Linked DNA regions of Homo sapiens: regions 1, 2 and 3 are each linked to region 4. Evidence: fine-mapped expression QTL. A gene starts in region 4. Each other region holds a variant in brackets. All regions are shown on one strand. Distances are from middle to middle.

The links. PIP is the estimated chance that this variant, and not a neighbour inherited with it, causes the effect.
Region 1: its variant is fine-mapped to the expression of PGAP1 in monocytes after LPS (Quach 2016, PIP 0.95). The same link has a PIP of 0.9 or more in monocytes and monocytes after Pam3CSK4.
Region 2: its variant is fine-mapped to the expression of PGAP1 in sun-exposed skin (GTEx, PIP 0.93).
Region 3: its variant is fine-mapped to the expression of PGAP1 in whole blood (INTERVAL, PIP 0.96).

What each region holds. Positions count from the first base shown.
Region 1 is chr2:196,982,699-196,990,790 of GRCh38, forward strand. It overlaps ANKRD44 (ankyrin repeat domain 44), which reads right to left. Exons shown (of 28, transcript NM_001195144.2): 28 at 3,964-6,951. The coding sequence ends at 6,893. Among named protein-coding and RNA genes, the nearest start is that of PGAP1, 60 kb to the left of the region's middle. The variant T/C (reference allele first, on the strand shown) is at 3,230.
Region 2 is chr2:196,682,366-196,690,475 of GRCh38, forward strand. The region is part of intron 13 of CCDC150 (coiled-coil domain containing 150); the gene reads left to right. It also overlaps LOC124900529. Among named protein-coding and RNA genes, the nearest start is that of CCDC150, 47 kb to the left of the region's middle. The variant C/T (reference allele first, on the strand shown) is at 3,711.
Region 3 is chr2:196,617,298-196,625,407 of GRCh38, forward strand. No RefSeq gene overlaps it. Among named protein-coding and RNA genes, the nearest start is that of CCDC150, 18 kb to the right of the region's middle. The variant G/A (reference allele first, on the strand shown) is at 3,352.
Region 4 is chr2:196,923,622-196,931,731 of GRCh38, forward strand. PGAP1 (post-GPI attachment to proteins inositol deacylase 1) reads right to left here and starts at 3,086. Exons shown (of 27, transcript NM_024989.4): 1 at 2,849-3,086. The coding sequence starts at 2,995. RefSeq lists a silencer at 3,035-3,284.

The DNA of each region.
Region 1 (8,092 bases), 59 kb after region 4:
ACTTGTCTAGGCTATTGCAGTGGCTACCTAATTGGTCACTAGGGTTTCTCTCTCTTGTCTCTCAACAGCAGCCAGAGTGATCTTTTAAAAATGAAATCACTGGATAAAGAAAATGTGGCACATATACACCATAGAATACTATGCAGCCATAAAAAAGAATGAGTTCATGTCATTTACAGGGACATGGATGAAGCTAGAAGCCATCATTCTCAGCAAACTAACACAGGAACAGAAAATCAAACACCACATGTTCTCACTCATAAGTGGGAGTTGAACAATGGGAACACATGGACACAGGGAGGGGTATATCACACACCAGGGCCTGTTGGTGGGTTGGGGTAAGGGGAGGGAGAGCATTAGGACAAATACCTAATGCATGCGGGGCCTAAAACCTAGATGACGGGTTGATAGGTGCAGCATACCACCATGGCACATGTATACCTATGTAACAATTCTGTATGTTCTGCACATGTACCCCAGAACTTAAAATAAAAATAAAAAATAAAAAATAAAAATGACAGAAAAAAAAAATCAGACCACAGCCATTTTTCTGCTTACATTTCTCCAGTGGCTTTTGTCACATTCAGAAAAATATAGAAACTCCTCCCAGCTCACAAAATTTTATGTCTGGGCTGAGATCGCTGTTAATCTTCTGCCACCCTCCCTTTCCCTTGAGTCTCCAGCCACACTGGCCCCATTTCTGTTCCTAGAACATAACAAACTCATTCCTGCCTTTGGGTATTGGCACTAGCCTTTTCCTCTCCCTAGAATGTTCTCTCCTCTGATCTTTGCATAGCTGGTAATTTCTTGTGGTTAGGATCTGAGTTTAAATGTTAGTAATTCTTAGGAACCCCAACTATAAAAAATATAAATAAAGTTCACGAATTTGCTGGGTACTTTCAACTCAATGCAAACACAGGTAAGCTTTTTGTGCTCTAAAAGTACTGCTTCAGTATTTTTACTTTTGAAAATTATAAAATTCTTCCAGAATGTAATACACAGTACTTCATTAAATTGACATTTAAAAGCAGAAAATAGTATCCTAGAAATTGTGTCCACCAGTGCCTAGAGAACCCTGTGAGGCTGAAGTACTGTGTTGTCAGAGCTTGCCATGTGACGGTGGGCCAAGTGCCCCACCTTTGTGAGCAGGAGTTCCCCCCACTGGGAAAGTAGATACAATCACCTCTTGCTTAAGACAAGAAATATACATGTGTATGGCCACATTTTGGTTTGATAACAAAGGAATTAAAGATGCCTTGATCTGTGCAAATCTTCTCCCCTGGAAAAATACATAACCAGGGCACATGTGCTCAGCATTGCCTTCCAAAGTTCTTTCTCAACCTTGTAAGTTCTCGTTCTGAGGGCATATAAAGTATGTTTATGCAATCCCTTGTGAAAATAGATGAGGCAATATGGCTAGTGTCATAAGCAATACATTGATGAAGAAATGATTCAGAAACAAGAGAAAGGCAAATAGGTGAGCAGTGGGGTAGAGGAGCATTGACATTCTAAGTGGCGCAGTTATTCCCTGGGTTGAGTGGCACATTTGGTCTCCCTGGCGCTTGGAACTATAAATACTCTAGTAGCAGCCCTGCCCACCCCCCAGCCATTGTGCCAACTACAAATGCCCACACATTTCCAATCACTCCCTAGAGTGCCTGAGAATTAATGAATGGCACAGCCATTATCTTGGTGCTTTATATTTTACAGCAAATGTACCTTCAGGATGAAATTTGCTAAAGAGACAATTCATATAGTACTTTTACCCACAATGTTTTTATGTTAATAGCCTTTTAGCTTAATGCTTTTGTGCTTTGCAAACTAATTCTGGAACACATTAAGTGTGTTAAGTGAGGGATACTTATACAGGGATCTAAACCTACCAAATGGAATTAGCGTGAAGGAACCTTTGACAAGCAGTTTGAAGACAAAGTGCCACATCAATGTTCAAAAATATAATTACCACAGTGGAGGCCATTATCACATTTCTCTGCTTATGAGAACACAATTAAAATTAGGGATCTCTACATTTTCCTTGAAAGGGTGAGTTCAGTCAGTCAAGCAAGCAATTTCCTTAGCAATGACTGGGAAGAAGGTGTATTAGTATGATGTTACAGCCTCAAAGGACACCGTGATAGACCAGGGTGGCGAGTAGCTTCCAAAAATGGCTCCTAGTAATTGCTGTTCCTGCTGTTCACACCCTTGGGGAATCCCTTGCCCTTGAGTATAGATTGGACTTAGTAACTTGCTTCTCATGAATAGAATATGAGAAAAATGATGAAATATCACTTCTGAAATTCAGTTGCAAAAATCTGTGACTCTGTCTTGCTCTTTGTCTCCCTGGCTTTTCTCAGCCTGCTCGCCCGCAAGGCAAGCTGCCATGTTGTGAGCTTCCCTATGGGAAGGCCCATCTGGCAAGGAACGGACGGCAGCCAACAGCCATCAAGGAACTGAGGCCCTCAGTGTAACAACCCATGAGAAGAATCCTGCCAACAACCATATGAGTGAACTTAGAAATGGATCGTTCCCAGGCCAACACCATGATTACAGGCTGTGAGAGACCCTGGAACAGAAGACCCAGCTAAACTAGGGCTGACTCATAGAAACTGTGGGTTAGGAAACATTTGTTGTTTTAAGCCACTAAGTTTTGGGGTAATTTGTTACACAGCAATAGATAACTAATATACCCAGTCTACTCTAAACAACAGGAAGCACTCACTTGTGGTGTGACTCCTGTTTTACATTCTTTAAGATTGAAAAGCACCCAGATTTGTATATTTGAATAAGAAGGGAGGCAGGGCTGAGTACAAAACCTCCCTTAACATTTCTGGCAGAAAAAAACAAAACATTATATGGCAAGATGGCATCGAAGAGAGAACATCTAGAGGCAGATGTGGTATCATCAGATCACTATCTTCAAAAATTCAAGTTGTATAACTTCTCTAGGATTCAGTTTCTTCCTGAAAGAGCTGGTGATGTGACTGGGCTGGACTGTAATAACTGCTAACATTCTATACTACTTGATTTGGGGAACTCAGGCAGGCACCACCCCCAAGTCTCTTCGTCAATAGCTGGAAACTCCATCATTAGGAATTTGTTCCTTAGTGCTTCCAGAGACTGTCCCTGAAGTTACTACTCAAGATGAAAAATTTTGGATGGTGAGATAGATGGGGAAGGAAATTCTATGGATACCTTTAAGGATAGTGCAGAGATGGAGGTTCTTGTGTTG[T/C]TATAAAGTCCCTGAAGGGTAATGGTGACAATACCAAAGTTAGGCATGGTTGATTTCACAATTTTGAGGACCTAATAAGCTTCCTCTTTTTTGATGTGGACTATATAACTGATCACATTTCTCCTCTTACCTTGGCTGCAAGGAAGCTGAGAGCAAACACAAGTTCAGTCACAGATACTGTTTTAAATTTTATGGTTCCTTTATCTGTTTGTATTCTTTTTCTCTGTTCTCATTTTTCTATTTCTAGTTTATCACGTCTTTTGTCATAACCCAGCTCAAATCCTTTATGGGCCAGCCTGGGCAATATAGTGAGACCCCATCTCTACAAAAAAACAAAATTAGCTAGGCATAGTGGTGCACATCTGTAGTCCCAGCTACTCGGGAGGCTGAGGTAGGAAGATTACTTCAGCCCAGGAGGTCGAGGCTGCAGTGAGCCGAGATCTCACAACTGCCCATCAGCCTGGACAACAGAGCAGAAAAAAACAAAACAAAACAAAACAAAACAAAACCCTTTATGGAAAAAAGTTGGAAGCATAAATACATATAATAAACACAAGCATATATGTTTGAATTTTTTCTCTAATTGTGATAACACAAACATAAATCGTGAATCTGGAGATACACTTTTATCTTGATTATTTTCTAAATTTAAAGTTAATTTGGCTTGAGGGGGTGCAAAGATTTAAATTAGCATAATTTAGAAAAAGCATAAATTGGAAAAATTAAAACACAAATTCCAACAATATTTGTACCGTTTTTATTTGTAAAAATAACCATCTGAATGCATTTCCATAGTATATTACAGTTAAGTACTTCATTACGTTATTAGAGCATTCAGTAGTTGCAAAAGTATTAAACTGTGCTTGAGAAGATTCAGATTGTTTCAAAGTCATTCACTGAACTAAAAGTCATTTTCCCCATTTTTACAGTCATGACATTTACCAGAGTCATTCAACTCCAATTTACATAAGAAAACATTATAGACAAAATCCCACTGAAATCATCAAACAATATTTTATGCTGTTACAAATATGTTATGCAAAATATAACACTGGCACCAGATTTGTATCATCGTGCTTTACAAAGATATATTGCACATGCTAGAGCATAAAATATGTAGACAAAACTACCAAATAAAAGATATTTGCATTGAATTTTTAGATCACATAAGAAACGCATAGAATTACATTTTATACAAACACTCAGATTGTCACTATCTTAAAATGCTTTTCCCCTATAATACTGACCTATGGTTTATAGTTTCGTAAGACGAAAGCATTTTAGCACTGCAAAATCAAACAATTCCTATAGAAAACTTAAGCATTTTCATATTCATTTCAATGCAAGTACAAGGGGAAATAGGAAAAAAGACACTTTATACATTCAAAGAAAAGTTGAAATGAAAACTCACTGGTATCATATTGCTCTGATAACACTCAAATGAAAAAATACAAAACATTCCACAGAACATTTTCAGAATATACAAATATAAAAAGGCACTCTAACTTCATATTACAAGACAATAAAACGGATGAGTTCTTCAACCAACACAACATATAAGCACACCAAGTTGCTCAACAGTACAAAGAATAACTAGTGCAGCAAATCCATTTGATGTTCTTGTTCTAATTTAATAACAAAATGATAAACCAAGCAGTGTTTACTGCCTAAAGTACCAAAACATACTATGGTGCCCTTTTAGTAGTGATAAATAGAAATACCCTGAGCTATTTACTGTAGAATCATAGCAGATTTTAGGCAATTTGGAGATAGTAATGTATTTAGCAAAGACAGGCAGACACTGGCAAATAAGTAAGTGCAATGAAACATGATCCTTGTAGTTGTGGTTAAAATACAGTCTAAAAATAACACAAATAAAAGCACTAAGCAACTAAGACTCAGTTAAAAACACATTTTTTTTTCTTAGAAAGCTATGGTGCAAACATAATTTTATTTCTAAGAGATGTAATTAAAATACAGAAATGATAGTTTTTAAAGTCATTTCTTTAAAAAAATTTTGCCTTGGGGTATGGGAGAAAGAGAAAGAGAGGAAGAGAGAGAGAGAGAGATCAGTTGATGTAATGAACAGTTCATTGTGAGCATGATTTCATTTCGTTCCTTTGTCCTCCTTCTATGAGTAAGAGAGTGGGAAAAGTCAAAACGCAGCTCCATGGAGATAACGTCTCATGGTGAGTCACTGCTTTGCTGAAATGATTCTTGTACTCTCTGCTACACGACAGGAAAAATGTTAACGCTGCTTTGCCATTAAAGCAAGCATTTCATTTCCTGCTTGAAATGCCAACTGAGCAAGATTTCCATTCACTTCTAGAAAAAGACACCGCAGCATATTGTGCTTCTTCAACACTGAACCTCTCTTAATTTTCAGTGTTTTGGTAAAGATAAGGTCATTATTGCTCATTAGCAATTTATCTGCTTTTTAAAAATTCATCTTCTCTAAACAAACGAAAAGGACAGAAGGTGGGAAGCACAACACCAAGAATTCAAAAAAACAATGGTGGTGGTGTGGAAAATTTTCAGTGAAATCAATACCAGTTCAATAAATCCTTTGAACAAGTTCTCATTTGTGAAGAACCCAACAGGAGTTTTAATTAAATCCAGGATATTAAGAGTAAGATTAAAGTTTTATAGCTAGATGAAAAATATAATACAGTTATCTGTCTTTGATCCAGATATGATAGAACATTATTTTTGAAATATCTCACATACACTATAAAATAGCAATTTCCAGGGTGGAAATGGAACTCATTATAAAACGTCAGAGAGTACTGCTCTAATTCGACACATTTCTTTTCTGTCTCTTCCTCAAGTAGAAAATAGCACTTGAGCTGGTGATTTTTATTTCTCCTTTTGGCACATGTGCCCACACACTGCCATCATTTCTCATCAGGTTACTGAGACTATGTGAGCTTTTCAGTGTACTTAGGGTAATTTCTAGATATTTCTTTGTGCTGCCTTTGTGTATATGATCCACTACACATCTGAGTTTTCATCTCGCAGAAGGGCATCCAGACTGCAATGTCTTCTAAGCTCTAAGCTGGCTACAGACTGTGGCTGAGCAGTAGAAGATGCGTAGCCCTCTCTAACCAACGCGGAAGAACCTGAGGGTCATCTGGAAACCTTAGCAGTGGAAATGCTAGGTTTGGCCCTTGGGCTTTTGGCTAGCCCAGGGTCAAGTGTTTTTTTTTTCACTTTTTTTTTGTTATTCTAAATAAGATACATAGCAATTAAAATAGAGAACAAATAATGGATGTTTCCTCACCATTTGTTTCATTTCAAATAAATATAAACACATTTACAGCAAAAGTATATGGACATTTTCTCTAGTTTGGCAAAAAAAAAAAAAAAGGTCAGCACATCATCAGTTACAAATGTTAAGTGGTCAACTAGAAATCTGTGTCCTAAGAAATATAAAATACAACAAAGACTGGTACACAGAAAGATTACATTTAACTCCATAAAAAAGCTACTTCAGTTCTCACTTGCATTTTGAAGGAAAAAAATGTGTATCTTCCATTTTAGACTGAAGCATTTTGGTCCTCATGTGTAGCTGGCTGATGAACTACACACACACACACATATATATATATATACACACGCACACATATATGTGTGCATGTGTATGTGCATAATTTTTAAAGAGTCTCATTCTTCTTTTTGTACAGCGGTTCCAGGTGTGGAACGGGGTCCATTTGACCTAGAAGCTTTGGCAGAGGGAGCAGACACAGTATTCACTATGTTGATTTCATCATCAAGCAACTGGCAATCGGTTTTACATGCTAAATCACCCATTTCTACTTTCTGCTTTCACTTTTTTTGTTCCTTTTTGCAGTCACACTTTTCACTGACTTGGTATGACCTTGACTGAGAAGCTCATTTTACTACTGATGAACAATGCTGATGATTCTGATGTTTTTTAAAAGTTAGTATTTTGATTTAAGAATAAATTAACAAAGGGTAGTTTCATACTATTTTTGCATATTGTGTCAAAGTTTTGGTGCAATATAATTTTCACCTGAAATGTTATTAGATAAATTTGGGTTCAATCACTTAAGTGAAAATTAGTCACAGGCTTGTTATAGGGAACACTGTGTTAAACAAAAAAAGCAAGTTCAATTTTTCAATTCATCTGGCAACTTTAACAGAGATCCTCAGAAAGAAGTTCTGGATATTCAAATGCTTACTATAGAGAGGATATAAATAGTTGGACTCTCTAAAAAGATTATTACAGGCATTATTTCTGAAGATGGACACCTTTACCTTTGGCTTCTAGTGAGGAAGTAAACATCAAAGTGAGAAGAAGTTTGAGGCATTTCCTATCTGCCTCTTCCCTTCCCTCCCAGGGGACATGAATGTCACACTGATATACTTCTGAGAACTCACTGCTAAATACATGAAAAGAAAAATTATTCATAGCGAACAGCTGCCTCTCTGCTGCATTATCCCCAAAGAACAGGAATTAAATACATCTTTTATTCTTTATTTAAAATGAGAGGTAGACTTTCACAGAAGTATCTTAGATTTAAAGAAAATGTGAAACAAAACAAAACTGGGGCCATCTGTGTGACTGTTCCACCCAACAGCCTCACTGCCCTCCCTCGATTAATTCCTTCTCTACTAGCTTCTGGAAGCCCAGGCCCCAAATAATACTTGAATACAACATAAACCTGGAATTCAAGCTTCTTTCCTTTCCTCCAACACAGGTGATCAAAGAAAAGCTTCTACAGTCCAAAGTCAAAACGTTTCCGAATCAGAATCATTTTCATTGTACCCATCCTCCGAGCCTACGTTGTTACTGCACAGGCTAACCATGCTACCCAGATTGGAGAGGGTCGTCCTGCTCAA
Region 2 (8,110 bases), 240 kb before region 4:
TAGGAAGTTTTGACGTCTAAATGTGAATCTTCCAACTTTTTTTTTTGTTGTTATTTTTTAAAGATTGTTTTAGCCATTCTGGGTCATTGCATTTCTATATGAATTTTAGGACCAGACTCTCCATTTCTGTAAAAAAGAACAGCTGGAATTTTGGTAAGGTTTACATTGAATCTGTAGATCAATTTGAAGAGTATTACAATCTCAATAATACAATTTGTTGTATATTTTCTGTATAAAGTATGTCCTCACTTAATGTCATCAGTAGGTTCTTAGGTTTCAATTTCAAGTGAAACGACATACAGCAGGTCCTTGAATAACATCATTTCATTCAGTGTTGTGTTATGATGTTGATAAGAAAAAAATGGATTTTGTTATGCATTATCATTTCACTTGAAGTTGCAGTCTCCAAGAACCTATCAATGACAGTGAGGACTACTGTATAAGATAGTGTCATCACTATAACTATCTCTATAAACTATATCTCTATAAATTATCTCTATTTGTAATAGAGATAGTTATTTTTTGTAGAGATGGAGTTTTGTTCTGTTGCCTGGCTGGTCTCGAACTCCTGGGCTCTCTATTTGCTATGTCTATTTGTAATACAGATAGTTTCACTTCTTCCTTTCCAATTTGGCTGCCTTTTATTTCATTTTCGTATATAATTGCCTGATAGAATCTCCAGTGCAGTATTGAATAGAATTGGTGAGAGCAGACATCTCTGTCTTGTTTCTGATCTTCGGGGGAAAGCTTTTAGTTTGTCACCATTAAGTATGATGTCAACTGTGGGGTTTTTTCAATGCTGTTCATCAGGATTAGAAAATTCCCCTCTATTCTCAGTTTGTTGGGAATTTTTGTCATGAAAATATGTTGAATTTTGTTAAATGCTTTTGCTGTGTCTATTGAGATGATCTTGTGGGTTTTGTTCTTTGTTCTATTACTATGGTGTATTACAGTGATTGACTTGAAATGGAAAACTAAGCTTGCATTCCTTGGATAAATTTTATTTGGTCATGTTGTCCTTTTTATATGTTGTTGCATTAGGCTTGCTAGTATTTTGTTAAGATTTTTTGCATCTATATTCATAAGGGATACTGTTCTGTAGTTTTATTTTCTTGTAATCTTTTTGGTTTTGGTATCAAGATAATATTGGTCTCTTAAAACCATTTGGTAAGTATTCCCTCCATTTCTATTGTTGGGAAGAGTTTGTGAGGGATTGGGGTTAATTCTTCTTTAAATATTTTGTAGCATTTACCAGTGAAGCCATCTGGTTCTGGGCTTTCTTGTATGTAGAAGGTTTTGTTTCTTTGTTTGGTTTATTATTTTTATTCTTATAGGTCTATGCAGATTTTCTACCTTTATTTGAGTCAGTTTCAGTAGTTTGGTTCTTTCTAGGAATTTGTCCATTTCATCTAGGCTATCTAATTTGTTAGCATACTATTTTCAGAGTAGCCCCTTGTCTTTCTTTCTGTAAGGTCAGTAGCAGAGTTCTCTCTCTGACTGCTAATTTTAATAATTTGTGTCTCCTGTATTTTGTTCTTGGTTAGTCCAGCTAAAGGTTTGTCAATTTTGTTGATCTTTCTAGAGAACCAACTTGTGGAAGTTTTTATAGATTTTTCTCTATCTTATTTCTGCGTTAATCTTGTTACCTTCTTTATGTTTGCTTGGGGTTTAATTTGCTTTTCTTTGTCTAGTTTCTAAAAAAAAGCTTAGGTTATTGATTGAGAAATATTTCATTTTTTAAATGTAAGTGCCTATAGGAGTCACTCTGAACCTATTCTGGTTCAGGGGAGTGCCCATAAAAAAATAAAAAATAAGTTTCTGCAGCTATAAATTTCCCTCTCTGCACTGCTTTAGCTGCATATGAGATGTTTTGTTATTTTGTGTTTTCATTTTTGTTTATCTCAAACTGTTCTTTAATTTCCCTTGAGATTTCTTTTTTGACCCATTGGTTGTTTAGAAGTGACATGTTTAGTTTATTCACATATGTGAATTCCCCAAATATTCTTTTATTGATTTCTAATTTTATTCCATTGTGGTTGGAGAACATACTTTGCATGATATCAGTCCTTTCAGATTTATTGAGAGTTGTTTTGTGGTATAACAGGGTTATACCCTGAAGAATGTTCCATGTGCATTTGAGAAAAATGTGTATTTTGCTATTATTGGGAGGATTGTTCTATAGGTGTCCGTTAGGTCTACTTGGTTTATAGTGTTGTTCATGTCTTCTGTTTCCGCATTAATCTTCTGTCCAGTTGTTCTGCTGATTAATGAAAATGGGGTATTGAAGTCTCCAACTATTACTGTTAAATTATTTATTTGTTCCTTCAATACTGTCATTTTTTGCTTCATATACTTGTGGCCTCTGTTAGGTGCATATATATTTATAAATGATACATCTTCTTGATGAGTAAACACTTTTTCAGTGTATAATGCCCTTTATCTCACCAGTTTTTTCTTAATGTCTATTTTGTCTAATATTAGTACAATCATTCTAGCTCTTTTTAGATTACTGTTTAATTTATATGGTATATATTTTTCATCCTTTTGCTTTCAACCCCATTTGGGTATTTGGATCTAAAGTGTATATTTTATAAACAGCATATAGTTGTTTTTTTAAAAACTAATTTTGCCTATCTCTGTGCTTTGTAATTGCAGTGGTTTAATCCATTTGTATTTAATATAATTACTGTTAAGGTAGGATTTATATCTGCCATTTTGCTTTTTTTGTTTCGTTTTTTGCTTTTTGTTCCTCTATTTCTCAATTAGTGCCATCTTTTATGTTAAATATATATTTCTAGTTCACCATTTTAACTCCCTTATCATTTCTTTTATTCTGTATTTTGGTTTATAGGTAACAAAAAGAATTACAAACAAAAATATATACTACCTTTTATATACACCTATGTTGCTACCTTTACTGTTACCTTTTATTTCTTATGTGGATTCCAGATATTGTCTAGTGCCCTTTTATTTTAGCCTAAAGAACTTCCTTTAGTATTTCTTACAGCGTATGCTTTCTAGCTTCACAATCCAAACCCCATCAAAAATGGGGACCTGGAGAAATTACTCCACGTTTTAGGTGAAGTCTGAAGAACCACATTCTCAAGAGTGTGTTTAAACTAGAAGAAAAGCTCTTGTATGAATTATTTCCATTTTTATTTATCTGGGAATGTCTTAATTTCTCTGTTGTTTTTGAGGATAGGTTTGCTGAATTTAGAATTCATGGTTGAATGTTTTTCTTTTTCTTTTCTTTTTTTTTTTTCTGAGACAGTGTCTCGCTCTGTCACCCAGGCTGGAGTGCAGCGGTGCCATCTCGGCTCACTGCAAGCTCCACCTCCCGGGTTCATGCCATTCTCCTGCCTCAGCCTCCCAAGTAGCTGGGACTACAGGCGCCTACCACCACGCCTGGCTAATTTTTTTTGTATTTTTAGTAGAGACGAGGTTTCACCTTGTTATCCAGGGATGGTCTTGATCTCCTGACCTCGTGATCCGCCCGCCTCAGCCACCCAAAGTGCTGGGATTATAGGTGTGAGCCACCGCGCCCAGCCGGTTGAATGTTTTTCTTTCAGCATTTTGAATATGTCATCCCACTGCCTTCTGGCCTCAACTTTCTGATGAGAAATCAGCTGTTAATCTTACTGAGATTATCTTGTACATCAGGAGCCACTCCTCTCTTGATACTTTCAAGATTTTGTGTCTCTTGCTTTCAA[C/T]AGTTTACTTATGTTTGTTTTGGGGCATGTCTTTTACACTCATTCCCACAGTTGGCAACTGTCCTTTAGCTTGCATTTCTGATATCACATGATCAACAAACTGCTGCTGGAATGCTTACACCTGTTACTGCAAATTCAAAACCCAGGAAAGACTTCTCCTGGGAATTTACTTTATGTCAGGCTTGGGCTGCCTGGTACATGGCTGCACCCACAGCTGGGCAAGTTCAACAACACAGTAGCCTTTCCACAGACTATGATTATTGTAGCTTTATAATAAATCGTGAAATTAGGTAGAGTCCTCCAACGGTGTTATTTTCCTAAAGTGTTTTAGCTATTTTAGTTCATTTGCTTTTTCATGTATGTTTTAGAATGACCTTAATGATGTTTTGTGGGGATTTCAACTGAAATTAGAGTTAACATCTCAGCAATATTGAATCTTCTAATACAGTTAGGTTGTCACTTGATGGAGATACATTCTCAGAAATGCATCTCTGGGCAGTTTTGTTGTCGTGCAATAGAGAGTACTTACACAAACCTCAGTGGTCACACCTAGGTTTTTTTTTTTAACTTTTAAGTTCAGTGTACATGTGCAGGTTTGTTACATAGGTAAATGTGTGTTACGGGGATTTGTTATGCAGATTATTTCATCACCCAGATATTATTATTTTTCCTGATTCTCTCCCTCCACCCACCCTCCACCCTCTGACACACCCAGTACTTGTTGTTCTCCTCTGTGTATCCATATATTCTCATCATTTAGCTCCCACTTATAAGAGAACATGCAACATTTGGTTTTCTGTTCCAGTGTTAGTTTGCTAAGGATAATGGCCCCCAGCTCCATCCATGATCACGAGGACGTGATCTCATTCTTTTTTATGGCTGCATAGTATTCCATGGTGTATATGTACCACATTTGCTTTATCCAGTCTATCATTGATGAGCATTTAGGTTGATTCCATGTATTTGCTGTTGTGAATAGTGCTCCAGTGAACATACACACATGCATGTATCTTTATAATAGAATGATGTATATTCCTTTGGGTATATACCCAGTAATGAGATTGCTGGGTCAAATGGTATTTCTGTCTTCAGGAATTTGAGGAATCGCCACACTGTCTTCCACAATGGTTGAACTAATTTACACTCCCACCAACAGTGTGCAAGTGTTCCTTTTTCTCCACAACCTCACCAGCATCTGTTATTATTTGATTTTTTGACTTTTTAATAGTAGTCATTCTGACTGGTGTGAGATGGTATCTCATTGTGGTTTTGATTTACATTTCTCTGATGTTCAGTGATGTTGAGCTTTCTTCATATGATTCTTGGCCACATTTATGTCTTCTTTTAAGAAGTATCTGTTTATGCTTTTTGCCCACTGTTTAATGAGGTTGTCTTTTTCTTGCAAATTTAAGTTCCTTATAGATGCTGGATATTAGACCTTTGTCAGATGTATAGTCTTTCATTCTGTAGACTGTCTGTTTACTCTGGTGATAGTTTCTTTTGCTATGCAGAAGCTCTTTAGTTTAATTAGATCCCATTTGTCAATTTTTGCTTTCGTTGCGATTGCTTTTGACGTCTTTGTCATGAAATCTTTGCTCGTGCCTATGTTCTGAATAGTATTACCTAGGTTGTCTTCCAGGGTTTTTATAGTTCTGGGTTTTATATTTAAGTCCTTAAGCTATTTTGAGTTAATTTTTGTATATGGCATAGGGAAGGGGTCCAGTTTCCATCTTCTGCATATAGCTAGCCAGTTATCCCAGTCCCATTTATTTAACAGGGAATCCTTTCCCCATTGCTTGTTTTTGTCAGGTTTGTCAAAGGTCAGATAGCTGAAGGTGTGTGGTCTTATTTCTGGGTTCTCTATTCTGTTCCATTGGTCTATGTGTCTGTTCTTGTACCAGTACCATGCATGCTGTTTTGGTTACTGTAGCCCTGTAGCATAATTTGAAGTTGAGTAGCATGGTACCTCCAGCTTTGTTCTTTTTGCTTAGGATTTTCTTAGCTGTTCAGGCTCTTTTTTGGTTCCATATAAATTTTAAAATAGTATTTTCGAGTTCTGTGAAGAATGTCAATGGTAGTTTAATGGGAATAGCATTGAATCTGTAAATTGCTTTGGGCAGTATGGCCATTTTAATGACATGATTCTTCTTATCCATGAGCATGGAATGTTTTTCCATTTGTTAATGTCATCTCTCATTTCTTTGAGCAGTGTTTTGTAGTTCTTGTAGAGACCTTTCACCTACCTAGTAGCTGTATTCCTAGGTATTTTATTCTTTTTGTGGCAACTGTGAATGGGAGTTCATTCATGATTTGGCTGTCAGCTTTACTGTTGTTGATGTATGGGAATGCTAACGATCTTTGCACATTGATTTTGTATCCTGAGACTGCTGAAGTTGCTTATCAGCTTAAGAAGCTTTGGGGCTGAGGCAATAGGGTTTTTGAGATATAGGATCGCATAAATGTCTTCCTTTGAGAAGTGTCTGTTCATGTCCTTCGCCCACTTTTTGATGGGGTTGTTTGTTTTTTTCTTGTAAATTTGTTTGAGTTCACTGTAGATTCTGGATATTAGCCCTTTGTCAGATGAGTAGGTTGCGAAAATTTTCTCCCATTTTGTAGGTTGCCTGTTCACTCTGATGGTAGTTTCTTTTGATGTGCAGAAGCTCTTTAGTTTAATTAGATCCCATTTGTCAATTTTGGCTTTTGTTGCCATTGCTTTTGGTGTTTTAGACATGAAGTCCTTGCCCATGCCTATGTCCTGAATGGTAATGCCTAGGTTTTCTTCTAGGGTTTTTATGGTTTTAGGTCTAACATTTAAGTCTTTAATCCATCTTGAATTAATTTTTGTATAAGGTATAAGGAAGGGATCCAGTTTCAGCTTTCTACATATGGCTAGCCAGTTTTCCCAGCACCATTTATTAAATAGGGAATTCTTTCCCCATTGCTTGTTTTTCTCAGGTTTGTCAAAGATCAGATAGTTGTAGATATGCGGCGTTATTTCTGAGGGCTCTGTTCTGTTCCATTGATCTATATCTGTGTTTTGGTACCAGTACCATGCTGTTTTGGTTACTGTAGCCTTGTAGTATAATTTGAAGTCAGGTAGTGTGATGCCTCCAGCTTTGTTCTTTTGGCTTAGGATTGACTTGGCGATGTGGGCTCTTTTTTGGTTCCATATGAACTTTAAAGTAGTTTTTTCCAATTCTGTGAGGAAAGTCATTGGTAGCTTGATGGGGATGGCATTGAATCTGTAAATTACCTTGGGCAGTATGGCCATTTTCATGATATTGATTCTTCCTACCCATGAGCATGGAATGTTCTTCCATTTGTTTGTATCCTCTTTTATTTCATTGAGCAGTGGTTTGTAGTTCTCCTTGAAGAGGTCCTTCACATCCCTTGTAAGTTGGATTCCTAGGTATTTTATTCTCTTTGAAGCAATTGTGAATGGGAGTTCAGTCATGATTTGGCTCTCTGTTTGTCTGTTATTGGTGTATAAGAATGCTTGTGATTTTTGTACATTGATTTTGTATCCTGAGACTTTTCTGAAGTTGCTTATCAGCTTAAGGAGATTTTGGGCTGAGACAACGGGGTTTTCTAGATATACAATCATGTCATCTGCAAACAGGGACAATTTGACTTCCTCTTTTCCTAATTGAATACCCTTTATTTCCTTCTCCTGCCTAATTGCCCTGGCCAGAACTTCCAACACTATGTTGAATAGGAATGGTGAGAGAGGGCATCCCTGTCTTGTGCCAGTTTTCAAAGGGAATGCTTTCAGTTTTTGCCCATTCAGTATGATATTGGCTGTGGGTTTGTCATAGATAGCTCTTATTATTTTGAGATACATCCCATCAATACCTAATTTATTGAGAGTTTTTAGCATGAAGGGTTGTTGAATTTTGTCAAAGGCCTTTTCTGCCTCTATTGAAATAATCATGTGGTTTTTGTCTTTGGTTCTGTTTATACTATGCAGCCATAAAAAATGATGAGTTCATGTCCTTTGTAGGGACATGGATGAAATTGGAAATCATCATTCTCAGTAAACTATCGCAAGAACAAAAAACCAAACACCGCATATTCTCACTCATAGGTGGGAATTGAACAATGAGAACACATGGACACAGGAAGGGGAACATCACACTCTGGGGACTGTTGTGGGGAGGCGGGAGGGAGGAGGGGGGAGGGATAGCTTTAGGAGATATACCTAATGCTAAATGATGAGTTAATGGGTGCAGCACACCAGCATGGCACATGTATACATATGTAACTAACCTGCACATTGTGCACATGTACCCTAAAACTTAAAGTATAATAATAATAAAATAAAAAACCTACCTAAAACGTTTTAATTGTACATATACTTGAAGTTAATATGTAAATTCATATATGTAATTTAAAATAGGTAA
Region 3 (8,110 bases), 310 kb before region 4:
CACAAAAATTCAGTGTCAATTAAGTACGCCATATGAAAATTCAGGCCTTTAGAATTATTTGCCTGCCATATCACTGCCTTAGCCTTTTAATTTGTCTCTCTGCCTCTATCCTTTACTATTTCCAATTCAATCTCATAGGACTACCAAATTTATCTCTCTAAAGCACAAATCTAACCATTTCATTCTGTAAGTAAATGACATCAGTAGCTTACTGACAAAATTCAGACAGCTTCAAGACAAAGTTCAGACTCCTTATCATAACTTCGATCTAAGTAGTGCCTACTTTCATTCCTCAGCATTTCTGCTCTAGTCACACTGCACTTTCAGTTTCCCACATGGACCTTGCTTTCTCACTACCAAACACACTTGCACAGGTTGTTCCTCCCACCTGGGGCTCCCTTTCTGCCCTTGTTCAACTGGATAACTCCTGTTCATCGCTTTTCACTTAACTCTGACACCATTTCCTCCAGAAAACTTTCTCAGACCCCTATCCAAATAAGATGCCCCTCCTGAGCCTACTCGACTTTCTTCCATCACAGGAGGTGGCTTACTTGTTTGGATTTCAGTCTTTCTTACAAGACAGCGAGGCCCTTGTCTTCTGGAACTTTGCCTTATTAATTTGCTACCCCACAGTTAGCATAGTGTCTGATCCAAGCAATAAGTGGTCAGTTAATGAATTAAGTCAGCTCACACCTCATATAGAGTTTGGCAGAAAATGCAGTTATTAACTGCACAGGGAGAAGGCAGAGACTGTTGCAGGAGCAAGATGTAAAATAGGAAAGCAGCCTTTCCTCTGCCCCCAGCTCAGGACCAAGCTCCCATTTCTAGGGCATGTTTTTCAAATGTGCTTCTTCTTTCTAGAAAAAGCTGGTGGGAGGTTGAACATGGTTTTTTGAGCTTGAGTCTTGACTCAATACAGGCCTAAGATCTCCTAAGCATTGGTGGAAATAGTAGAAAGTTGAGGATAGGGCTCAGTGACATCTCAGAGCTGCAATCAGTCTTTGTGTGTTAGAAGGAAGGCACTGCCATCGTGGCTAACATGGTGAAACCCCGTCTCTACTAAAAATACAAAAAAAATTAGCCAGGCGTGGTGGCGGGCGCCTGCAGTCCCAGCTACTCGGGAGGCTGAGGCAGGAGAATGGCGTGAACCCGGGAGGCGGAGCTTGCAGTGAGCCGAGATGGCGCCACTGCACTCCAGCCTGGGCGACAGAGCAAGACTCCGTCTCAAAAAAAAAAAAAAAAAAAAAAAGAAAAAAAAAAGGAAGGCACTGAGAATTGAATGCAGCTCTGATGTGGGTTATAGTTTTAATTTGAAAAAACTCAAATAAAACATTTAATTGCACAAAAGAAAACCAGAACCCATATAAGACAGTGTAGATATTGGAGTTCTTAGTGATTGGGTTTTTCCAATACCTGAATCTGAGAAAGGACTTGGGTGCAGATTGATTATTTAGGAGGTGATCCCAGGCAGCTGAAATAAGTGGGTGGAGAAAGTAAAACAGAGAAGGGAAAAGAGCCAACAAAGAGTGCCTCACTGAGCTGTGGGCAACTGGAGTTGGTTAAGGGTTGGCCCGGGAGCAACTGCCGCCTCCTCCTATGCTCTTCCCTGAACTTTTCAGCTGAATCTGCTTGGGTTGGGCTGAGTGGCCTTCTGTTTTTCAAAGAAAGCCTTGAAGCAGAAAGGCAGAGAGATGCCACTGCCCACATTTGAGGTCGAATGTGGCACTGTGCTTGGAATTGTCCGCCATAGCTGTGCTGGAATCACCTGGGCTAAGAGTGTTGTTTGGGACACCCAAGTGTCTGTTGTGAATTCTAAGAAGCTAAACTGCATTTGTGATCATGAATTTTTTTCTATGCTATAGCCAGAGCTGAATATCTGCAAACCATGTCCTCTTCGGAGAAATGTTTTCTGTAAGTAGATTTAAACTGCCTTGTGCCTGCAAATGTTGCTGGGTTTTGTTGAGATTATTGTGTTCTCATTTGAACAGTTATTACAGATAAGGCCCTGTAATCCTCAAAACTGCAGGAAGCATGTTCAGACACTTTATTCATCTCACACGGGAGAAGAAGTCATAAAAGGAACCAGGCTGGGTTTAGCAAAGCTCACCTTGGACTGAATTGCTGCTGTCAAGGATATGATATTATTGAAAATATAACAACACAGGTTTGAGAAATGTTTAAGAAATGTTTTTTGTCTCTTTGCTATTTGGAAGTGGGACATTTAAGATTGTAATCCTACTGCTATGGGTGTGCATCTCCTGTATTGATATTGGATGCTGTGCTCTGAGGTGTCATGTTGAGGAGGATATGTGAGCTGTTATGAAGGGCATGGTTATTTTCACTGCCAATCATCTTGGGAAGAGGAGGATCCTAAATCAGATGAGAAGGGATTTTTTTCACCATCCTAGACCTGGGCTCCAAGAACATACATGAAGCTACTCATAAGGGGTAAAGGAAACTGTCATCTGCCACAGGGAAATATGTGGTAACCAGGCAAAAGAGCATCCCTATGGATGAACCATGGTTACAAAAAGAACCATACCTGGTAGCCAGTTGTCTCCTGTGCTTCCATCTGCCCTGAGACTCATTAAGTTTTGTTAGAGTGGAGAACCTAGCTTCAGCTCAGTTTTGAGGTTGGGAGTCTATCTGTGTTTGATGTAGAGTACTCTATCTTAAAACTGAAGTAAACACAGTGTGCCCAGAAGAACAAGGATGGTCAATGGTGTTACATGCTACAGAAAGTTCAGAAAGAATGAAGACAAGAATTTTTAAAGCCACCAGGACCCTGCAAGATGGAGGTCAACAGTACCATCCCCGATGGCCACTGCAGGGAAAGTACTGAAGATCACCATCCAATTACAGTGCCTAAAAATAGACAGATAAAAGAAGTGGAAACAGTTTAGAAAATTATTTATATTGCAAATTAAAGGAAATCTTGAGTTTTTCTTAGTTATTATTTGAACTATTACACCTTTATATTGCAAATAAAGAAACTAAGTCTCAGATTGTGACTTCCCAAAGTCACACAGCTAGAAAGTTGACAGAGCCAGATTGTTTTTCCCTCTAGTTCAGTTATTTTCCCCACTCATTTTCAGGCTGGTGGCTTGATAACCAGTGTCAAATAATTGTTTTTGTTTTATTTTTATGTGCTCTTTTCTACCCACTCCCTCCTCCCCCAACAAATGGCTGTCTGGGCATATCTATACACAGAAGATCAAAAGCCAGGGGAATATTCTAAATAGAAGATAATAATTAAAGATGTAAGGTGGGCATGGTGGTATGTATCTGTAGCCCTAACTACGTGGGAGGTTGAGGCAGGAGGATCACCGGAGCCCTGGAGTTGAAGGCTGC[G/A]GTGAGCTAAGATCACTCCACTGCCCTCCAGCCTTGGCAACAGAATGAGAACCTATTGCAAAAATAAAATAAAATAAAATAATAAGGAGGCAAAATTCTCCCAGTCAGTCATTTATTGAAGCTATTACCCAGAGCCAATAACATGTGAGAAAGTGTTTTCTGGGCCTTCTGGGAGAGAAAATCATGTACTTTTCACAAAAGTTATTAGCGCTGTCTCCCTCCCTGGACCTACTGGAGGCATTGAAGGAAGAGGAGGGTGATGAGGTGAGGATGGTTTAAAACCAGAGTTTGAAGACAACACTGTGGGAGGCAAAAAAGGGTTAGCAGACATACAAAGACAACAGAATCCTTGGAAATAGATATTTACTTTGAGTCCTTACATTTTTATAGCTGTCTATCTCACACGAATTAATAACCACAAAACACAATATGGTAGAAATCGGGCATAGATGGAGAGAGGGGAGAGCTAGCAATCCAAGTTTAGGCCTGACACACCCAGCAGTGTGTCTAAATGTTCATGATGACAACATCAGAAACAACAGATTATGGAGTCCAGGAGAAGATGTTTATATGTGACCAGAAGTAAACTGACTGATTAGGTAAATTGTAGAGGCAATCATGATTCAATGTCCTAAAGAATCTAGGAGGTGAAGTGACCAACACCACTGGGCTGTTCCCAATATGTATTTCCCCTTTCTTTCTTGGTAACAGAAGCTGATTTTGGGCACACTGTCACTAACGTACCTCCATTTTCTGTCCTGTCTCACAGCTACATGTGGCTATGTGGTTATATTCTGATAAGTGGAATCTATTCAACTTTCAGGAAATATCTTTAGGAAAGAGATAGGTTCTTATTTATTCCTTCTTTTTTGCATTCTCGAATACAGACATGATGGGTAGAGCCTGAGGAGCCATCTTGGACCCTGAGGTTGAAATAACTTGTTAAGGATGGCAAACAACAAGATAGAAAATGCCCAGGGCCCTGGCACTGCAGAGCATCTGCCAGCCCTGAACTATCTACCTCCAGATTTCATTTATGTAGAGAAATGCAATTTGTTTATTTAGGGGATGATCCCAGGCAGCTGAAATAAGGGGGCAGAGAAAGTGAAACAGAGAAGGGAGAAGATCCAACAAAGAGTGCCTCACTGAGTTTTCCCCCTCTCATCATAAACACACACCTCAAGTTATCATTATTTTGCATTTACTGTCACTCAAAGCAAAATCTAATATTAAATGATGCAGCAGGTAAGCCGGACAAGTGAGTGCAGACATGCTGATAGAAGAGGAGACAGATTATGGTGTTAGAAATGGTATGATAAATTGGTAATCTCAATGGAAATTTGGGGATATGTGTTGACGTTGTCATTGCTATGGCCTTGCTGGGTCTCATCAGTGAAAGGACCAACTATGGCGAAGACTTCTTCTCTTTGGCTGATCAGCACCCTTCTCTCCTTTGGAAAATTTGTTACTTTTTCCACGTGTTTCTAGTGTAACTGCAACTACATTACCTTCTCCCTAGTCAAGGGGGACTGCAAGTAACTCAGGTGGTTCTGGCTTATAATTATGTTCTTTCCCATTTATTCAGATGATTGTTTCAATGGTTGGGCAGTTGACCGGAGCCAAAGTCCTCCTCTGAGGTTGTCCTAAATGGCTCCAAAGGGTAAAGCCCCATTTAACTCTGGGGACACAGGGCTGAAGAGAGGTGAAAGTTGTTAGCAGGGCTTGGTCCTTCTGGAGATTCTAGAGGAGAATTTGGCTCCTTACGTTTTATAGATTCTAGAGACATCTACATTATTTGGCTCCTTGCCCCTTCCTCTATCTTCAAAGCCAGCAGTACAACACCTCCAAATTTCTCTCTCTCTCTCCATCTCCCTGACCTCTGCTTCCATCATCACATCTCCTTCTATGATTCTGACACTCCTGCCTCCCTCTTTCTGTTTCTTTCTGCTATAAAGACCCTTTAATTATATTTGGACATGGTAACGGAGGATAATCTCTGCATCTCAAGATTTTTATTTTAATGAGCAAATCCCCTTTGGCCATGAAAAACACATATTCACAGATTCTGAGGATTAGGATATGGATATCTTTGGGGAGCCATTAGTCTTTCTACCACCCTAACCCCACCTCTGGTCTTGCAAAAAATTATTTTCTTATTTTCTTCTTGTCACTTGCAAACAAGAGTCCTGGCCTCATTTACCATTCAACTTCTTGCATTAAATCTAACAGAATAAATACTTTGAGTATACTTACATTTTCTGATAGGCTGTAAACCTCTTTACTCAGGTCAACTTGGTTTTATCATAGGAATTGATCCACCTACTCTATTCTAGTAAAGAACCTCAGGAGTCAACGGAATTGTTGGTCCTTGTAAATCCACCATGATATTGCCTTTTGCATATGCTTAATCCCAAGAAGACCATGATTTTAGAGCTAAATTATTGCCAAATAGTGATATAAGGATTATCAAGACATTGTTTAGGATGTGCTTATTTTCTGGAAATTTCAACCCCTTAATTATTGGCAGGAGTCAAAACCTTATGTAAATAAAAACTCTGGACAATACACAAAAAGTAGCTACCTCAAGATGCTGGAAAACAATAGCAGGTGGATTGTGGAAAGGAGTCAAAGCTTAGTGAATGACTCGTACTGGGTAAGTTTTCCTTCTCTGCCCCTCTTCTCTCTGCTGGTGTTGATTTAAGAGCAACTCTAATTGTGTGTAAGCTGTGCATCAGCATGGGTAGCTGTAATTATGAGAGAAATCCCATCCTTCTAACCAGAGGACTGGAAGGAGGGGCCCTCAGGAGTTGTAGAGAAGGAGGAAGATATCATAGAGAAGGGAACTGGAGAAGAAAATCCCTTATTCTGAGTATAAACCAACACATGTTCCAAGCTCACCCCGAGCTGAGCATACATGAAAAAGATGTAAAGCAGTATAGTGAAGTCTTTGAAAACTAAAATGACATTGGAACCATTTCCCACAGAGATTGAAATAGAGCTTGAGGTATGATCTAACTGGGTTGATTGTCTGTTAAAACAATAAGTAATCCACATTCTAGAGGAATATAACAGGCCCTGAAGTCATTAAATAATATTCAAAATGTCCAGGATACAATCCAAAATTACTCAACATACAAAGAACCAGGAAAATGTGACCAATTATCAAGGGACAGGACAATCAACAGATGCAAAACCTGAGCTAACTCAGATCAGGAGCAAGCTTTTTCTGTAAACAGCTGGATGGAAGGAATATTTTAGGGCATGGGGGCCAAATGGTTTCCATCACAATAACTCAACTCTGTCATTTAGGACAAAAAAGTCACAGACAATATGTAAATAAATAAGCATGGCTATGTTCCAAAAAAATTATATTTATGGAAACCAAAATTTGATTTTCATGTAATTTTTAGTTTCATGAAATATTAGTCTTTCTTTGATTTCCCCCCAAACCATTTAAAACTGAAAACAAAACAATTCTTTGCTCGTGGGCCATGCATAAACAGGCAGCAGTTTGGATTTGGCACATAGGCTGTAGTTTGCCAACTCCTGATCTAGATGTTGGAAACATCATACAAAGACTCCAAAGCAGCTATTATAAACATACTCCACAAGGTAAAGGTAAACACTCTCTAAATGAATTGAAAGACAGACATTCTCAACTAAGAAATAGAAACTATTAAAAAGAAAGAAATGGAATTTTTAAAACAGAAAAATACCATATTTGAAATAACTATCAAGAAACTCAGAAAATCTTCAAATACTCTTAGGAATGCTCTGTTTCTGATGATACCCAATAGAATTAAGATGTACCCCACAATTCTAAGGGTGATTATGAGGAATAAAGTAGATCATTTTTTAAGCAGAATGAAGTTTTGCAGGGGCAGAAGCTCAAATTTAAAACTTCTAGATATTAGATTTGTTACTTTATTATTTCATGTGCTGGGAAAAGGGAATGGAAAATGTATCATCAACTAGAAAATACATGGAAAAGAAAAATATTGCTGTCAGTCATTTTCTTTTATTATTTGTTTGTTTGTTCTGTTTATATTCGTTTTTTCATCACAAAAGTAATACATATATGGTTGGGCGCGGTGGCTCACGCCGGTATTCCCAACACTTTGGGAGGCCGAGGCAGGTGGATCACAAGGTCTGGAGATCGAGACCATCCTGGCTAACGTGGTGAAACCCCATCGCTACTAAAAATACAAAAAAATTAGCCAGGCGTGGTGGTGGGTGCCTGTAGTTCCATCTACTTGGGAGGCTGAGGCAGGAGAATGGTGTGAACCCAGGAGGCAGAGCTTGCTGTGAGCAGAGATTGCACCACTGCACTCTGGCCTGGGTGACAGAGCAAGACTCCATCTCAAAAAAAAAAAAAAAAAGTAATACATATATATGAAAAATTTTTCCAATAATACAAAAGTACATAAAAGTATAAAATCGAAGTTATTTCTTCATCTCCCAACTCTAATACTGAGAGATAAATGCTGTTAACAGTTTGTGTATTTATCTCTTTACTATGCATATAAAATAAATATGTGTATGTGCATTTTTTAAAATAAAAAAGGATCATATTATAGATATTTTAAACTTGTTTCTTTCATTCAGTGATGTATTGTGAATATTTTCCATTTTAGAACATTCATATATACTCATTCTTTCTGACAGCTGTTTAGTATGGATATACTATTATTACTTAACCACTTTCCTGTTAATGAGTATGGTAGATTGAATTATTCATTCTAATTCTTCAGTATTCTAT
Region 4 (8,110 bases):
CACTTAATAACAAAATATATGACTCATATTTTCTTTTTTTCTTTCTTTTTTTTTTTTTTGAGACAGAGTCTCACTGTCGCCCCGCCTGGAGTGAAATGGCACAATCTTGGCTCACTGCAACCTCCGCCTCCCTGGTTCAAGCGATTCTCCAGCCTCAGCCTCCTGAGTACCTGCGACTATAGACGCACGCCAACATTTCCTTTCAGAGAGCAACCGTTAGGTTACACATACGAAGATAGCCAGACAAATCACTGTATGAGAGAAACAACTCAGACGTTTCTTCTAAAATTCTGCAATTTGCCTAAAACCATTTGCTACCAAATAAAAGTTTTGCCTTGCTGTCGTAATAGGGCAAGAAGCTTTAAAGGATAAAGTATATTTTGCCTAGTAGGCTTGAGATATGGGTTCGTGAGATGTTCAATTAACTCTGAATAAGTGAATCTGGGAAAACCAGAGGTAGAAGATGAATAGAGATAATCAAACAATTTTAAATTCAAAACTTCATTTTTGCAAAGAGTTTCAAATTTATGCCCCATCTTTTAAAAAAATGGATAATAAAACTGAATGTGTTTCAACCACCTTTCTATTTCTGCTGGCTAACTAAAGAAGATGCAAATGAGCAGTAAAAAAAAAGAAAGGCATCAAAAGAAAGAAGAAAACCCAATGACTAGGACATCTCACATCTGGGTATCAACCTGTGAACAATTAGAGAGCTGACTATAAAATATAATTAAAAGTAAGCAATATGTAAAATATCTTTAAAACATTTTTATTCATGAAAGCCATTTGGTTCTCAACAGAATGGCCTCATTTATCCAGAAATCTCACTATGTTCAAAATGACTCATTTCTATAGGCTGGTTTTAATTGTATTTGTAAGATAACATGACCTGGTATGCAAAACAAAAAGACTTAAGAATACAATATAAATACTATCATGAATTAACACAGCTTTTTACATCATAAAAACCTGCTAAAAATCAAAAACTTCTGCCACTGTGATTATTACTGTATTAGCAAATTATTAATAGAAGTGTAAAACCCCAAAAAAGCAACTTAAACCAAAATAACTAAACCTAGACTACTCAACAACAATAAAAACCCAAAGAGCTCTTTACCATTAGCTACACTAATTTTCTGTTTTTCCAGTCAATTTATGAGGCAGGAAATGCGTCTGTGAGATCCATATGCTTTGTTCCCAACGCTAAAGAGAACAATTTCTACTTCTGTGAATATTAAAATAGCTTCAATAATTGTAGGAAATCTAAAAATAAATGGGAATTAGTACTGTACTGTCACAAAATGATTTTAACCAAACTCTTCAATGCGGTACAAAACTAAAGTGACCTACTTCAATCTATTGGGAGTTTCCTAATTATTAAACCAAAAATAAGGAGGGAATTATAATAGCTCTATTTTCAGTTTTTTAAAATACTAAACTAAAAAGGTTTGCTTAGAAATGAACAGAGACGACAGTAACATGTCAAAATCTTCTCCTTCGATAGCATCCCTACCAAATGTTTCCACTCTCTTATCATCATAAATGCAAAACCAAGGTAAGGATCTAAACACAAATGAAATCTAAATTTACTAGAATTTTTCCCATGGGAAAGAATGCTCTTCAGCAATTTAAACCTTAAGTAGTCTTAAGATCAAAATAATAGCAGCGTAATCAAGTAACAGGCTTCCTCCATAATGACTTGTACAAAGAAGCAATCAGGACTTGCATCCTTCACCCTAAAAAAAAAACTGCTGTGATTTTAAGAGTATACTAAAAATGTATTTTATCAATATATGTTATAGTGCATATACATTTTATGGTAGGGAATTATTACAATAGGTAGTCCATAATTAAGAGATGCACTTAGAAATAAAAGAATCATTCGGAAAAATTCTCTTAGGACAGTTGTGTAATTTGTCTGCGCCTCTTTTTACAGCTAGTCATGAATGAAATTCTAGATCCTACTATGCCGAACTAACGAAGCCATTGATTGAAAACATTCAAAATGGCATGGAAGCGGTAGGGGTGGAGAGAGAAGGGTTGGCTCTCTCTTAAACTCCGAACCCAGCGAGAAAACAAAAATAGCACCATGAAATAGATTTTGTATGCAACTATTAAGAGGCTCGGCTGCTGAGAGACATGCATAAACACAGGTATGCACACACACAGGCAAGCCCACACACGCACGGCCCCTTAACCTGCAAAATAAGAGGATCTGCAACATCTTTCCAAGAGGGGATCTAGTTTCCAATTCAATGACTCGCCAGTTTACCCATAGGCAAAACCCTGGAGTCTCTAAAAACAGCCTTGGGAACTATCTAGCCAATATACACTCTGCAGACGCTCGGTCCCTTTCTAGAAATGCGAAATCTGACGAGCAGATCACCGGGCGCGAGGGGAATTTAGGCGCGTGGGAAGCAAAGGAAGGTCCTGGGGCACGGGTTAAGGCAAGAACGCGAGAGGGATGGAGCTTCGGTTTAGGGAGAAGGGTTGAGGCTGCCTCTCTGGGCATGAGGGGGGCTGGGCCCGGCCAGTCAGAAGAGCTTGTGCCCAGGATTTGGGGCTGGGGAGGAGGCGGAGGGACAGCGGAGTAACTACGAGGACGACCACGAGGATGCTCTCGGGAAATCGTCTAACAAACACCCCACCGTGAAGAAGGGACACAAAGGGGAGGTGAGGGGGGCAGAAGGGGGATGCAGAGTCTCCCCGGGCGGAGAAAACAGAGGCGAGGACGGGACAGGGGGCCCGAGAGGCGCAGAGAGCCAAGGCAGGACGAACCCACAGAAGGAAAAAGGCACCAGGGGCCAGAGTCTTGGAGCGCCCGGCTGAGGAGAGGGCAGAACCTTACCTGATACTCCGGGTACTCAAACATGTAGCTCATACTGCACTTATTCTCCTCGAAGCCGAAGAAGACATCCCACAGCCCCAGGGTTGCCAGAAAGACCATGAAGACATAAAACGCCAGGTTCCAGAGATTAACTGAGTGAAGAAACATGGTGCCGCCACCACCGCCGCCGCCGCCGCCGCCCCCTCTACCTCCTTCTCCGCCGCGGGGCCCCAAGCCCGGACTGAGCGTGCTAGACACTGTCCGACCGCCACCCCCGGAGCCGAGCCCCAGCCGCGCGCGCCTGCGCTGATGCCCGGCCTGCCCGTTCGCCAGCCGCGCAGTGCGCCTGCGCGCACCAGGTCCGCGGCGCCTCTGGCCTGGCGACTCCCAGAGCCGAGGGAGGAGTAGGTGTTGCAGCGCGAGCGCGGATCTACGGGAAAGAGAAAGAGGGAGAAAGCAGGGTGGGCTGGGCTGGAGGGTGAGGGGAAAGAAGGGAAGTGGGGAGAGAAAGACGCGAGGAGTGGCTGGCGGGAGGGAAAGAAGAGAGAGAGAGGAAGCATCCAGAGGGGGATGGGCGGAGCGCGGGAGCCCTGGAGACGAGCCGGGGGATTGGGCAGGAGGCGGGTGTCAGATGGGTGAATCTGGGGAGGGGACTAGAGCCCAGAGTCCAGAGGCGATTAAGGACCGAGAGCGGACCGAGAGAGGGGAGGAGGACTTAAAAGCCCAGGGGTCATCAGCTGTCACCTCGCAAACGCCTCTCCCTGCGGCAGTTTAAAAACGCTTCCCGTTCAATTTTGAAAAGACTCAGGCCTCCGCAATTTCGGTTTTCCCAACGGTAGTAGAGCACACTCACAGCTCTCTGGAGCAGTTAGCTTGAAGAGGGAACAAATGGCTTTATTTTCCCTCTTCTACCGCCTACTTGGGCCCAGTAGGTAACAGCGCTTAAAAGCACCGGCTCATTAAAAAAAAAAAAAAAAAAAAAAAAAAAAACACCCGCAAGCCGACGAGATTCTGCTCTTGGTATCAGATGAAAGCCTGAATCACAAAAAGCATCGTTAGTCCTTAAAATATGTTACCAAAATATCTATTAGCACTGACGTCCCCAACAGGTATCTGCGTAATCAGTTTGACGCTGACTCGCCTTGCTCTCCAGAACCTCCATCTCTTGGGGAATGGGTTCCACGTTAACTGGAGGAGGCAATTTCGTCCAGCTTCCATTCAAACTCGCAAATGACTTAATTCGTTTTGAAGAATTTCGGTTCTGTTTTGTACAAAGGAGGAGTTTTTAAAAAAAGCTCGAAATCAATCACTTGTAGCAGCTTCAAAACACTAGAATGTTAGGAAAAAGACATCACTCTTTAAAGCTGACTCAACAGTAGACGGTGTGTGTGTGCGTGTGTGTGTAGTAACCACAGGATTCTTAGAATGGTCTTTGGCACTAAATGAATTTCATTGAACTTGGGCTGATTTTCTGGTATATTTTCTGTGCAGAGGAAGTTTGGCTACAATACATAAAATCAAAGAATTTTAAAACCAAAAGGAAGCTTATAGTTTATCTTGTACAACACCCTGATGTTCAGATTACGAAACTATGAAGAAGAAGTGGAGTGATCCTGAAAATCAAGATAGTCTTTACCCTGCACAGAAACAGTTGCAAGTCTAAACAAACACAGCTAGCTACGGAATGTGGAGTATTGACGGAGAAAGACAGAAATGGGAAAATGCGGAAGCAGTCTCCTTTTTTGTAGGGAGATAAGTCTGGAAAGACCAGGATAACAGGGGAGCTGTAGGTGGTACTGATCAGGAGGGCAATTAAGTAATATGTCATTGAAGTAAGTCCTGTATGAGACGTGTCGTTTTTGTTTGTTTTGAGACTGAGTCTTGCTCTGTCGCCCAGGCTGGAGTGCAGTGGCGCGATATCGACTCACTGCAGCCTCCGCTTCCCGGGTTCAAGTGATCCTGGTGCCTCGGCCTCCAAGTAGCTGGGATTATAGGTGTGACCACCACACCTGGCTAATTTTTTTTTTTTTTTTTTTGAAACGGAGTCTTGCTCTGTCGCCCAGGCTGGAGTGCAGTGGCGCGATATTGACTCACTGCAGCCTCCGCTTCCCGGATTCAAGTGATCCTGGTGTCTCAGCCTCCAAGTAGCTGGGATTATAGGTGTGACCACCACACCTGGCTAATTTTTTTTTTTTTTTTTTTTTTTTTGAGACGGAGTCTTGCTCTGTTGCCCAGACTGGAGTGCAGTGGCGCGATCTCGGCTCACTGCACCCTCCACCTCCCTGGTTCAAGCAATTCTCCTGCCTCAGCCTCCCGAGTAGCTGGGATTACAGGCACACACCATCATGCCCGGCTAATTTTTTATTTTTAGTAGAGACGGGGTTTCACCATGTTGGACAAGCTGATCTCGAACTCCTGACCTCTTGATCCACCCGCCTCATCCTCCCAAAGTACTGGGACTACAGGCATGAGCCACTGTGCCCGGCTTACCTTTTTGTATTTTTAGTAGAGAAGGCATTTTGCTATGTTGGCCAGGCTGGTCTCAAACTTCTGTCCTCAAGTGATCCACCTGTTTCGGCCTCCCAAAGTGCTGGGATTACAGGTGTGAACCACAGCACCCAGCCTGAAATTCTTTATGAAGTGGTGATTTCACTTGGGAATGTCATGTCTGTTATATTCTATTAATAGGTATAGAATGTGTTAAATTTGTAGAATTACACCAACATGACTGGATTATCAAGAAGAACCCATTTTGATCGCAAGATGTTAAGAGATAAATGTGATAAAGAGGAATATATACTATAGGGTTTTGACATTGTTGACCATAAAAGAGAATGCATGTGGGGTTTGGGATGCAATTACCAGTGAGTGCAGAGGATTACAAATCATTTGGGGAAGGCTTTAAGTTATAAATAAAAAGGGGGGAATACATTGAGTCTGGGTGCTAAAGAACATCAAAGGCAGAACGTCTCCTCTTTATTTCTCCTAGCATGGTAGGAGTAGTATTATGACAAATAAACCCAGGGTGAATCCATACTCCCTCATCTCTATCTCAGTGCTTCTTAAAGTTAATGTGCATGTGAATCACTTGGAGATTTTGTTAAAAAGCAGATTCTGGGCCGGGCACAGTAGCTCATGCTTATAATCCCTGCACTTGGGGAGGCCAAGGTGGGCGGATCACGAGGTCAGGAGTTTGAGACCATCCTAGCCAGCATGGTGAAACCCCGTCTCTACTAAAAATACAAAGAATTAGCTGGGCATGGTGGTGCACACCTATAGTCCCAGCTACTTGGGAGGCTGAGACAGGAGAATCACTTGAACCCAGGAGGCGGAGGTTGCAGTGAGCTGAGATCCCACCACTGCACTCCAGCCTGGGCAATAGAGCGAGACTCTATCAAAAAAATAAAAATAAAAAAAAGAAGATTCTGATTTAACAGTTCTGGGGTGGGACCCAAAATTCTGCATTTCTGACAAACTACTGGGTGATGCCAATGATACTGGTCAGTGGACTACACTTTGAATAGCACGGACCTGTACTGCCTGAGGACTCTGTTCTATGGAGAAATCCCTGAACTCCAAGATGACAGAGCTTCCTCTTTTGGTGGCCTTCATGAGTTGTGGCAACTAGCTGCATTGACTGTTCACTCAGAAAGGAGTGGGATAGAGAGTCAATGGATTCTTCATGTTTGTAATCTTTCTATCCTAATTTTTTACTGTCTTTTCTCCTATCCATCATTATCCACTCCTAGCTTTACTTTTATATCTAACCTAACCCTACTGAGCATCACTTCAACCACCCTCTGCCAGAGCTGTCAACTGTCTTGACCGCTTGTCTTTCTATCCCACTCTACTTACAAACTTCCAACCTTGGGACAATATAATCTGGCTCTGAGCTCTGACACTACTGTATCTGACTACTGCTAGAGAAAATGACACAGTCATTTGAATTAACTCTTCAAAAATACTTGGCCAGGCACAGGGCTCACGCCTGTAATCCTAGCACTTTGGGAGGCCGAGGAGGGCAGATTGACTGAGCTCAGGAGTTCGAGACCAGCCTGGCCAATATGGTGAAACCCCATCTCTACTAAAAATACAAAAATTAGCCAGGCGTGGTGGCGCACGCCTGTAATCCCAACTACTGGGGAGGCTGAGGCACGAGAATTGCTTGAACCTGGGAGGCAGAGGTTGCAGTGAGCCGAGATCTCACCACTTCACTCCAGCCTGGGCAACAAACAGAATGAGACTCTGTCTCAAAAAATACTTATATATGTTTCTGGTCACCACCTTCCTCTTCTATATTTCAGACCACCACTTTTTAAGTTCCCTGCCACTTTTTAAGCTCCCTACATTTCTTCTTCCTTCTCTTTTAGTAGGTTTTTAGTACATAACCTTATCTTCATATTACAGAGATAATTTTGATTTTCAGATGCACATTGCTTCAGCTTCTCATTCCTAAGTTCATTATCTTCACCCAGTCCTAATTCAGTTAATACATCTGAAGTGTTTGGCACAATGACTGGCATATAGTAAGCATTACCATGGTACTTTGCTATCCTTAGAGGACATAAAAAGCACATCTCTCTAGCTATGTTTTATGTTCCCATCTCATGCTCCTTTCTTTTCAGGAAGTTAGTTCTATCAGGTTAAGGGCTCTATCAATCTCTCCCTTTCTATCCTCCCTCCCCAAAGCATATAAATATGTGTTGTTGTTTTTTTTCAAAAATCTTCCTCGTGGCTCTCACCTGTAGCTCTTCTCATCTCAGTCAGGATTCCTAAAGATGTGATCAATACTTATGTCTAATTCCTCATCTCCCCTTCATGTCTCAGCTACACTGTAATTTTTGCCCCCCTCCCACTCCCATGAAACTTTTCTTGCAAAGGTAACCATTGACCTAATTACCAAATCCAGTTTACACTTTTCAGTCTTACTTGATCCTTCTACTACATTTGCCACTTCTTTCTTAAAACAATGCCCTCCATTGTCTTCTGTAACATCATTTTCCACTGGTTTTCTCCTGTTGATGTAGCCTCTCAGTCTCCATCTCATGTGACTTACTTTTTTTACTTATCCCTTACATTTTATTAATCCCATGATTTTATTCCCAGTCATCATTCTACTTTCCAGCAAAAATCCTTTAGTGGCCCCTCAGAGCGTGAACTCTAGTCAGGATTCTTTTGGTTGCAAGAACACAAACTAACTCCAGTTAAAATGGGGATTTTTTTTTTTAAGGTAAAAAGGAACTTGGGAATCCAGAATAAGCTGACAAGTTAGTACACATGCCG